Homo sapiens: one gene and its partner. The protein of the gene in region 1 interacts with the protein of each later gene in a pairwise test. Each region holds a gene or a part of one and is shown on either strand. Other genes may lie near its edges.

Region 1 (6,901 bases):
CCCAGTCTCTTCCCAGGTATTTATTAAGCACTTGTTATATACCAGTCAGTTGTCAGAGCACTTAACTACATACCAACTCTTTTAATTCCCACTTAGTACCTACTGCTATGGTGTGTAGCTACATCGCCTCCACTTTAGAGGTGAGGGAACTGAGGCTCAGGTTAAGTAACCCAACCAAGGACCTATCGCTAGTAAGAGGCAGCAGTGCAATTTGAACCTATGTAGCCTGACTAGAGAATTTGAACCAATGTAGTCTGACTAGAGATTGAGTACTCTAAATTCCTACCCCAAACTTCCTCTATGAAGACCTGGCAACACTAGACCACATTTCTGGAGCACAGTCATAGCTGCCCCCTTCAGAAGGGAGCAGAGTAGGCCATTTCACCTCATAGCAGCCATAATGTAGAGGGGCAGATGTGTGTATGGGATGATGGCAGGAATAGTGATGGGGACACAAGGACCCTATAACTCATAAGTAGAGAGGAAGACAATTTCCTCATCCACCACTGGAAGAAGACTTGTTACTCAGTAGTCATGTGTGCCCCGTGATGATTGTATTTGCTTATTGTGTTTACTGTATTCTGGACACTGTACTAAATACTTATATTCTCATTTAATGTTCACTTTAGTGTCACATACACAATAAATGCTAGTTAAGATGGTACGGTTGGGCTGTGCACAGCAGCTCAAACCTGTAATCCCAGCACTTTGGAAGGCCAAGGTGCGCAGATTGCTTGAGCCCAGGAGTTTGAGACCAGCCTGGGCAACATAGTGAGACCCTGTCTCTACTAAAAAGCACAAAAATGTAGCCAGGAGTAGTGGTGCACACCTGTAGTCCTAGCTACTGGTGAGGCTGATGTGGGAGTATCACTTGAGCCTGGGAGGTCAAGGCTGTAGTGCACCATGATCATGCCACTGTACTCCAGGCTGGGTGACAAGAGAGATCCTGTCTCCAGAAAAAAAAAAAAAAAGTTTGTGAGGTTGTGTTTTTGGAGATAAATGAAATTCTGTATTGTTATTATGTAATTGTATATTATTTAGTTCTTCTTAAATTACTGTGTTCTTTATGAAAAGCGTATGGTTTCCTTGGGAAGTAGTTTTGTCAGACATGTATAATTGCAGTATCTGTAAAGGTAAAATAAAAGAATAAAAGGTGGATCACAAAAATATGGTACTCTTTGTGTTTAGTAAGCCATGGAATTTTGAATGATTTTTTTTTGTTGTCGTTGTTAATTTACATTTACTATTTATTTATTTATTTAGAGACGGAGTTTTGCTCTTGTTGACCAGGCTGGAGTGCAGTGGCATGATCTTGGCTCACTGCAACCTCCGCCTCCCAGGTTCAAGCGATTCTCCTACCTCAGCCTCCCGAGTAGCTGGGATTACAGGTGCCGGCCACCATGCCCAGCTAATTTTTGTATTTTTAGTAGAGATGGGGTTTCGTCATGTTGGCCAGGCTGGTCTTGAACTCTTGACCTCTGGTGATCCACCTGCCTCAGCCTCCCAAAGTGCTGGGATTATAGGTGTGAGCCACTGTGCCCGGTCCATTTACTATTTATTAATAATACATTTCTCACACTGGACAAATTTTCTTTAAGTCATTTTACTGAAAGCAAAACTACTTCCTAAGGAAAACAAATACGTATTATAAAGAACGTAGTAATTTAAGAAGAACTAAATATACAACTATGTAATAACAATACAGAATCTCATGTATCCCCTCAAAACAACCTTAAAACTTTTTTGTTTTTTTTGTTTTTCTTTTTTGAGATGGAGTCTTGCTCTGTTGCTCAGGCTGGAGTGCAGTGGCGCGATCTTGGCAAGCTCCGCCTCCTGGGTTCACGTCATTCTCCTGCCTCAGCCTCCCCAGCAGCTGGGAATACAGGCGCACGCTGCCATGCCCAGCTAGTTTTTTGTATTTTTAGTAGAGATGGGGTTTCACCATGTTAGTCAGGATGGTCTTGATCTCCTGACCTTGTGATCCGCTCGCTTCGGCCTCCCAAAATGCTGGGATTACAGGCGTGAGCCACCACACCCGGCCACTAAAACAACCTTAAAATCTTAACTAGCATTTAAGTAATAAGTGCTTATTGTCAGTGGATGAAAAACTTTTTTATACTGGCCACTGTTTTTGGCAGATGTTGATGATTGCTTCTCTTACATGTGTTGCTGTTTTGTTTCCTCTTTAGGTACTTGATGAAGAAGCAGAAGTTTTTATAGTCAAAATGTGGAGATTATTGATATATGAAACAGAAGCCAAGAAAATTGGTCTTGTGAAGTAAAACTTTTTATATTTAGAGTTCCATTTCAGATTTCTTCTTTGCCACCCTTTTAAGGACTTTGAATTTTTCTTTGTCTTTGAAGACATTGTGAGATCTGTAATTTTTTTTTTTTGTAGAAAATGTGAATTTTTTGGTCCTCTAATTTGTTGTTGCCCTGTGTACTCCCTTGGTTGTAAAGTCATCTGAATCCTTGGTTCTCTTTATACTCACCAGGTACAAATTACTGGTATGTTTTATAAGCCGCAGCTACTGTACACAGCCTATCTGATATAATCTTGTTCTGCTGATTTGTTTCTTGTAAATATTAAAACGACTCCCCAATTATTTTGCAGAATTGCACTTAATATTGAAATGTACTGTATAGGAACCAACATGAACAATTTTAATTGAAAACACCAGTCATAAACTATTACCACCCCCACTCTCTTTTGATCAGAAATGGCAAGCCCTTGTGAAGGCATGGAGTTTAAAATTGGAATGCAAAAATTAGCAGACAATCCATTCCTACTGTATTTCTGTATGAATGTGTTTGTGAATGTATGTGTAAAAGTCTTTCTTTTCCCTAATTTGCTTTGGTGGGGTCCTTAAAACATTTCCCAACTAAAGAATAGAATTGTAAAGGAAAAGTGGTACTGTTCCAACCTGAAATGTCTGTTATAATTAGGTTATTAGTTTCCCAGAGCATGGTGTTCTCGTGTCGTGAGCAATGTGGTTTGCTAACTGGATGGGGTTTTCTTATTAATAAGATGGCTGCTTCAGCTTCTCTTTTAAAGGAATGTGGATCATAGTGATTTTTCCTTTTAATTTTATTGCTCAGAAATGAGGCATATCCTAAAAATCCTGGAGAGCTGTATTTAATGCATTTTTGCACTAATTGGTCCTTAGTTTAATTCTATTGTATCTGTTTATTTAACAAAAAATTCATCATACCAAAAAGTGTAAGTGAAAACCCCCTTTAAAACAAAACAAAAAAATGAAATAAAATTAGGCAAATTGACAGACAGTGAGAGTTTTACAAACATGATAGGTATTCTGCTCGGCAATTTGTAAGTTTACATGTTATTTAAGGATAAAGGTAAATCATTCAAGGCAGTTACCAACCACTAACTATTTGTTTTCATTTTTGTCTTGTAGAAGGTTTATATCTTGTTTTACCTTGGCTCATTAGTGTTTAAAAATGTACTGATGATGTGCTTAGAGAAATTCCTGGGGCTTTCTTCGTTGTAGATCAGAATTTCACCAGGGAGTAAAATTACCTGAAAACGTAAGAAGTTTTAAACAGCTTTTCACACAAATTAGATGCAACTGTTCCCATGTCTGAGTACTTATTTAAAAGAAAGGTAAAGATTGGCCTGTTAGAAAAAGCATAATGTGAGCTTTGGATTACTGGATTTTTTTTTTTTTTAAACACACCTGGAGAGGACATTTGAAAACACTGTTCTTACCCTCGAACCCTGATGTGGTTCCATTATGTAAATATTTCAAATATTAAAAATGTATATATTTGATCCTGGGGACTCATATTCTTTCAGAATCATGTAAATAAATGGCATCATGTTGTAATTGTGTGGTGCATACTAGAAAAGTTAAAAATATGGGCTGAACTTTTTATGGACTTGATTTTTATGACTATTGGTATCTAAAGGTCAAGGAAGCCATTTACATTATTTTGGATGAATCTACTATACATCTATGGAAATGTCTCTTTTATTTTAAATTCTGGTTTCTCAACGGAAAATTTCAGAAAAGATGCCCCTTGCCATTTTCGTTAATTTTTCAGTCTTTTCTTAGACACACCCCCAGCCTAAGACCTTGTTCGAGGAGTTTATTGTGTCTGTCTTTTCTTAACATACTGCACTGTTCTTAAGCATCATATTGTGTTGTTTTTATTTAGCCACTATTAACATGAAGGTTTATTCAGGTAGATTTGATTTCCTTTGCTTCGTTTCTTCTCCTGCTCTGTCAACTGTACTTATCTTAAAGGGCCACTCTAAAAACAAGGGAGATGTCGTAATCTGAAACCTTTGGGGAGATGTACTCTGTACTGCATAACATCTCCAGTGAGGTTTGTGACAGGACCTCAACTAAATATATGAATTTGTGCAAGTTCATATATTAAAGTTTCTGCAGCAGAGTGAAAATTGTTACAGTAAATGTGGTAGAAACTGTTAATCGCTTAATGCCAGTTTAAATCATGTTTTGTAACCAAGCTTCAGTAAAAGGCTTTAGATTGTCAGAGTTGGTTGATTTTTAGAATTGTATATATAAAGAATTAGACATTAAACAGGCATATTCTAGTGTCTGAAAATACACATAAGAAATTTCTATTAAGTTGCTTGAACTTTGTGGGTTAATTTTACCATAATCTCATAAATTAATTTTAGTTTGAAAACCTTATACAGTATGAATTCATTTTGCCATTTCAAGTTGTTATATAAAGAGCATGAAAGTCTTTTTTTGTTGTTTTTTTGGGGTTTTTTTTTTTTTGAGAGGAAGTTGTGCTTTTGTCGCCCAGGATGGAGTGCAATGGCGCGAGCTCAGCTCACTTCAACTTCCGCCTCCCGGGTTCTGGAGATATTCTGCTTCAGTTTTCTGAGTAGCTGGGATTACAGGTGCCCACCACGACACCTGGCTAATTTTTTGTATTTTTAGTAGAGACAGGATTTCACCTTGTTGGCCAGGCTGGTCTCAAACTCCTGACCTCAGGTGATCCACCCGCCTCAGCCTCCCAAAGTGCTGGTATTACAGGCGTGAGCCACCTTGCCTGGCCAAAGCGTGAACATCTTAAGAACCAGTCTTGATCTGGCAAAAAAGTAGTAGAATACTACTTTTCTTTATTTGTCCCTAAAAATAAAGTATGTACATCTGTTCACAAGGAAGAAAGGTAAGTTTGAAGTTGTTTTTCTTAAACTTTAATGTGACCCCAAATCATCTGAGGAGTGCTTGTAGAAATAGAGACACTGAAGTAGCAGCGCTGGGGTGGCGCCGCAGGCTTTGCATTTCTGGACAGCTCCCAGCTAATGTCATTGCCAACTGATCCAAGACTACATTTTGATTAGCACTTTAAGGTGTCTATTCAGTATTATTTTATCCTAACAGACTACATAAATGCAGCTGAATTTTCCTTTAAGTAGATTTTAAAGAGAAAAACATTTTTTGAGGCAAATACACGTAACTCATGAACGTAATGTAATCTTGCAAAATTATGTCTGAGAAAGCCCTAATATTCTAGGCTTTTTTTCCATCCAGCCCTGAAAATTTTTTCTGTAGATAACTTTATGTTGTAACTTATTCTGAATCTTATTATGGCATTTCCCTGTAAACTATGTAAGTGTAAGCTAATGATTATTTTGTGAAGCGTGCTGTTTCAGGTATTAATCTGCCATGAATACTAGATATAGTAGAAAAACTGAGAAAACATTTAGCTTGAGAGCCAATTTGAACTAGACACTATCTTTTTTTCTCCTTTTTAATGGAATAAATTTAATGCAAATAAGTGTAAGCAGGTATACAATGTTTAGATGAGGCTTATTTTCCCAACTCTTTTTAACAGGTTTTATGATATCCCCAATTTATACCCAAAAGACTGCTGAGAGGTTTTATGTCAAATTGATTACAAACTTCTCTGGGTTGTATTTCAGTCTTCTGTTAAGTATGAAATTGAGAAATAGTTTTGCTCAACAAAAGATGATGAGGGATTGATTTGTGAATGTCACTGGAGATAAAAGGGTATGAGAAGGAATCCCAAGCAGGCAAAGAAACAGTCTAGCTGTCAAGAAGAAAACAGGGAGATACATACCAAACCCAGGAGCTACTAATATAACAATCATACTATAGAGCGAAGTGAACTTACACTTTTTGATAAACTGATAGATTTTTTGTAATGTGATTATGGTAAAATACTGAAATATTTATGTTAATTTATTTGCATTTGAATGCTTACATTTTTAATTGACAGAATCTTTGCATTTCATTACTTGAGTCATGAAGGCGAAATTAAAGAATGGCAGTCTAAAATACCCAGGTAAAGAAGATAATTTCTAGAAACAAAAATAAAAATTCTTTTCAAGCCATGTTGTTTGAATTAAATGACACTCCTGAGTCTGTCTACTTTTTTTTTTTTTTTTGAGACAGCATCTTGAACCCAGGAGGTGGAGGTTGCAGAGAGCCGAGATTGCGCCACTGCACTCCAGCGTGAGCAACAAGAGCAAAACTCCATCTCAAAAAAATACATGTATTTCTGTTAGCTGATCATCTAATGGTGGCAAAAAAAATTACACGAGTTCAGGAACATCATTAGACATAAATACAAAATACTATGTGAATTATCAAATGTGATAAGCTGAGAGGAAATGGGAAATAGGAAGATTCTCAGTAGAAGTAGTAATATGTGGAAGGGGCTTTAGAGGTCACCTAGTCTGTTTTGCCCATTGTAATTATGTCAGTAGTCCCTGCAGGTGGTTTATCTAGAGGAGTATATATGGGGTTCTAATTCATGGTCTAGCATTGCACTATTAAATAACCACTAATGACAAGTAGTTTTACATGCATTCACGTGAAATCTTTCTGTTTGTTTGTTTGAGATAGGGTCTGCCTCTGTCACCCACGCTGGAGTGCAG
Region 2 (4,046 bases), on another chromosome or scaffold:
TTTAGTAGGGGTTTAGATGGGGTTTCACCACATTGGCCAGGCTGGTCTCAAACTCCTGACCTCAGGTAATCTGCCCACCTCAGCCTCCCAAAGTGCTGGGATTACAGGCGTGAGCCACTGTGCCTGGGTGACTTTACTTTTCTAAGACTCAGTTTCCTTATTTGTAAGAAGAAGTTCCTAATACCTACTTCATAGGGTTGGTTGTTGCTGAATACTAAGATAACACATATAAAATGCTTCCAAAAAGGTTGCCTAAGGCACTCCATAGCTGCTACTAACACACACACACACACACACACACACACATATATATATATATATATATAACATGTATATATTTGGTATATATGCTGTATATATAACCAAAAACCCAAAATACATACAGGTTTGTTTGGAAGATTAAAGATGTGAGCTGAGTAGTGTGAACATGTATGACACGCAGCAGGTGCTACTTAAGTCTTCTCTAGCTCCTTGTTTCCCTCCCCATTTTTTAATTCTGAGTACCCCATATAAACAGAGAACACTGAGCCATATATGAGAACACCATACCATGGGAACTTTAATTAGAACAGAGACATGTTTCGTACAGGCTGAAAAACCAGAAACCCCGGGAAGGTTATGCTTAGCTTTGGAGACCAGAAATCAAGCTAGCCATGGCTGCTGTGTCACTGGGCAGAGGACAGGGTCCCAGGATGCTGGAGGACACAGCAGCTTCTTTCCATCTGATGTGAATGCTCCAGGCAGAGGCTGTCTGGTCAGGCTGAGCTGGGCTCATGGTGGGTCCTCGGGTTGGGAATTTTCCAGAGGAGATTCGCAGCCTCCAATGCAGAGAAATGGCCTTGGGGTGCACCACGTCCCCTTGGCCAATGTGGTGGATTATGCTAGGTCCTTGGCCAATCATTGCTTGAGGAAATAGCTAAGAATTGGGAGAAAAAAAAATACAGTGCAGAGAGAAGTTCTTATAGCACAGGACCCCGGAGAAAAAGCTACCAAGGGAATGTTGGACATTGAGTCAAGCTGATCTGAGCTCAAGGGAGCTTGGGCATGTCAACTCCCCCTCCTGAGCCTCAGTTTTCTCCTCTGAAAAGTGGCAATATGACCTATGTCACTGGGTTATTTGAATGATTGTACAAAAATATAGCCTGACAATGAACAATGGTTAAATCCAGAGCAGGGCAAGGTAAGCCCATCTTGGTCTCTCCCGTGATGACTTTGGACCACGGGGCTTAGAGAGAAGTTCAAACTAAATACAGAGGGCTTTAACCCAGGATACAAGAGTTATCAAGGTGACAGCAACTTGAGGTCTCCCATATATGACTGTGGGACTCAACGACTATGACCTCATTCTGCAAATGAAGTCCAGGCCCTACTTTTTTGTTTCCTTCCTTGGTTGACACCCTTTAATCTGCAGTCAGCAGAAGACACAAGAGACAATATATCCAACAGTATGGAGTCCATAGCATCAGGGCTTGAGCCCCCATTTCCCACGTCTTGCAGATAATATATAGGACAAGCCCCATTTTACAGATGACAAGACTGAGGCTAGAGACCCATTCCATTTCATTCAGACTGATACACAGGCCAAAGAAACACATAGGAATACCATTGCAGTCTTTTTGGCTTGGCTCGTTAGAAGATGAGGCATAGCTTTCCTTGGCCAGAAAAAAAAAAGAGTTTACAATTTTTCTTTATTTTTTTTTTCAAGGAGTTGTGACTTTTTAATAGAAGTTGGTTCATGTGTAGGCATTTTATTCTTCCATTAATTTCCATCTAAATGAGGTTTTCCTGGAGATAACCAGTGTTTTAGTTCCATTTGAGTCTAATTTGTGTGACTGAAGCCTCCATTTCTGCCAATTTCAATTTGCTTGGTGATTCTAGCACTCCTTACCTGGGCAGTAATGCCCTTGCTGCAGACAGCAGCACCTGGAGCTGGGAGATGGACCAATTCTCAATAGCAATTCAGGGAAAGAGGTGGTCCTTCTCTTTTCCCAATATTACTCAATAAATACGAAATAAATTATTAAATAAGCCATGTTCTGATGGGGGTCCCCCATCATGGTATTTACAATGCAAAACAACAGCCATCAAAAGAACTAAAAAAACACACACAGAAACTTTTACTCCAAAAACAGCAACCACAGATAGAAGAGAGATGACATTTCTGTCAGTATCATTGGCTCACTGGTGCAGAAGTGAGAAGAACGAGACTTCAATAAAGCATTGCTCAATGACATTGAATCTAGCATAAGTTTCTCAGCTGGACTCGGCTGGCCAGTGCGGGAGGAGGCATGTTTGGAGGAATCCTGTTTTTTGACTTCGTTTTACTGAGACAAAATTTTCTGTTCAGCTAAAGGGGAAAGTGGGGCAAGACACATGCGCATGAGACCATTTTGAACATTTGTGAAAAAGAAGAGGGGAAAAGAAAACAGCAGAAGAAAAGATGAAAGTTGGACTGGAGAAGGAAAACAATGTGCTTTCTTTGCCTTTGAGAGCACCCTGAATTTTGGCCTCTCCAAGCAGACCCTTTTGCAAAAGAGGATGGGTCTGAGCAAATGAAGTGATGCGGTTCTCTGAGACTGAGACCTTTGTTCTAACATCTTAATTTTATTCTGCTTCTGAAAGATCAGCTGTCCTTCAAAGAAGGGAAGGAATGCAGATAGGAATATGATCAAACCTCAGTGAACCAGAATGTTACTAATAGGGGGCTTTGAGTTACTTAGCCTTGCCTAATTAACTGAAGGGAGATCAAATCTTGCTTTTCGTTTTTACTTTCATGATGGACAACCTCCTAAAAATGTTTGAGGCTCTTTTCCTTTTCCCTCTGAGTCTCAGTGAAGCTCCCTCTGTCTTTGGTGACACTCTCAGGCCTCAGGCCAACATTTTGAATTTTTATCTCACAAATCCCTCCACTTAACAGAGGTCGAACTTTGCCCTAGGGAAAGGGAGCAATGTATTCAGTTTCTGTCATCCAGTGCACTTCCATAGCGGGAAGGTCAAAGGCTTGGGATGCATGGCGCTTGACCTCAAGCCACATCTCCCTCCCATTTTGGATGTTGGTTTTTGAGATAAATCCTCACGACGAGCAGCATCCTGGTGATCTGTCATATTCCTTGGAAGCAGAAGGTAATGAGGGTGAAATGGGCGTAGGAACAGCGATACTGGGAATGGGAGGTTCTGGTTAATCAGGGTTACCAGTGCCTCAACAAGCACATTGTTTTTGGATAGAAAAAAAGGAAATGTAAAAGAAAGTAGAGAAATACACTGAGAGAGAGAGAGAGAGAGAGAGAGAGAGAGAGACAGAGAGAGAGACAGAGAGAGAGACAGAGAGAGAGAGAGGCAGAGATTTCCCCGAAGCAGGCATTTAAGCAGCCTTCTTGTAAACTTCACCCAGGAAAGGGGCACTCCCTTGCTTTGGGTTAGGGCTGGATAGTCACATTGCCAGGGAAACAACCAGGGATGTTGCAAAAGTCTCACCAAACCCAAAGCTGGACCAGACAAGCTGGCAATTGCAAGGCAGTGGACAGTGACTTTGGAAAGGGCAAGAGCTGTCTCCGGCCAGCAGCCAGAAGACACTGCCAGTTGGTCAGATAAGCAGGACTGATGACCTTTGGATCCTGGGCCCTTCCAGGATGGGTTTGGAAATGACCTTCTTGGTGGGGTCCTGTGGAACATCTGGCTGCTCCTTCCACCTTTTTTTTTTTTTTCCTAATTTCAGAAATAGCTTTGTGCTTTCCCCTGATGAAACAGCAAGAGATCATAGATAAAAGCTTTTGCTTTTGGCTTGGTGGTTCTCAAGCAAGATGGCTGATGCCTCTTCCCAAGGTAGCCTTCAGATCTCAGGGGACAGAGAGAAATTAGGTACTGTGGAGTGGAAGCATGTGTAACATACATGAAACCAACTAGGTGTGCTCAGAGAAGCTAGGGAGTGATCCTGCTATGTGCCTTGGAGTGAGGGTGAGATCAAGGTGCATCTTCCCTCAGTCAGCTCAATTCCTGCCTCCATTCTCATGGTGTGAGCACCTTGTCAACCCCAAGTGCAATTCCAG

The links.
Region 2: the proteins of RBM25 (region 1) and SRRM4 interact in binary tests that used the Homo sapiens proteins (3 or more experiments, as listed by UniProt).

Annotation. Positions count from the first base shown.
Region 1 is NC_000014.9:73,117,524-73,124,424, forward strand, and holds the end of RBM25 (RNA-binding protein 25), read left to right. Parts: intron 1-2,189; coding exon 2,190-2,282; 3' UTR 2,283-6,376; downstream 6,377-6,901. UniProt on the Homo sapiens protein: RNA-binding protein that acts as a regulator of alternative pre-mRNA splicing. Involved in apoptotic cell death through the regulation of the apoptotic factor BCL2L1 isoform expression.
Region 2 is NC_000012.12:119,159,541-119,163,586, reverse strand, and holds the end of SRRM4 (serine/arginine repetitive matrix protein 4), read right to left. Parts: 3' UTR 536-4,046; downstream 1-535. UniProt on the Homo sapiens protein: Splicing factor specifically required for neural cell differentiation.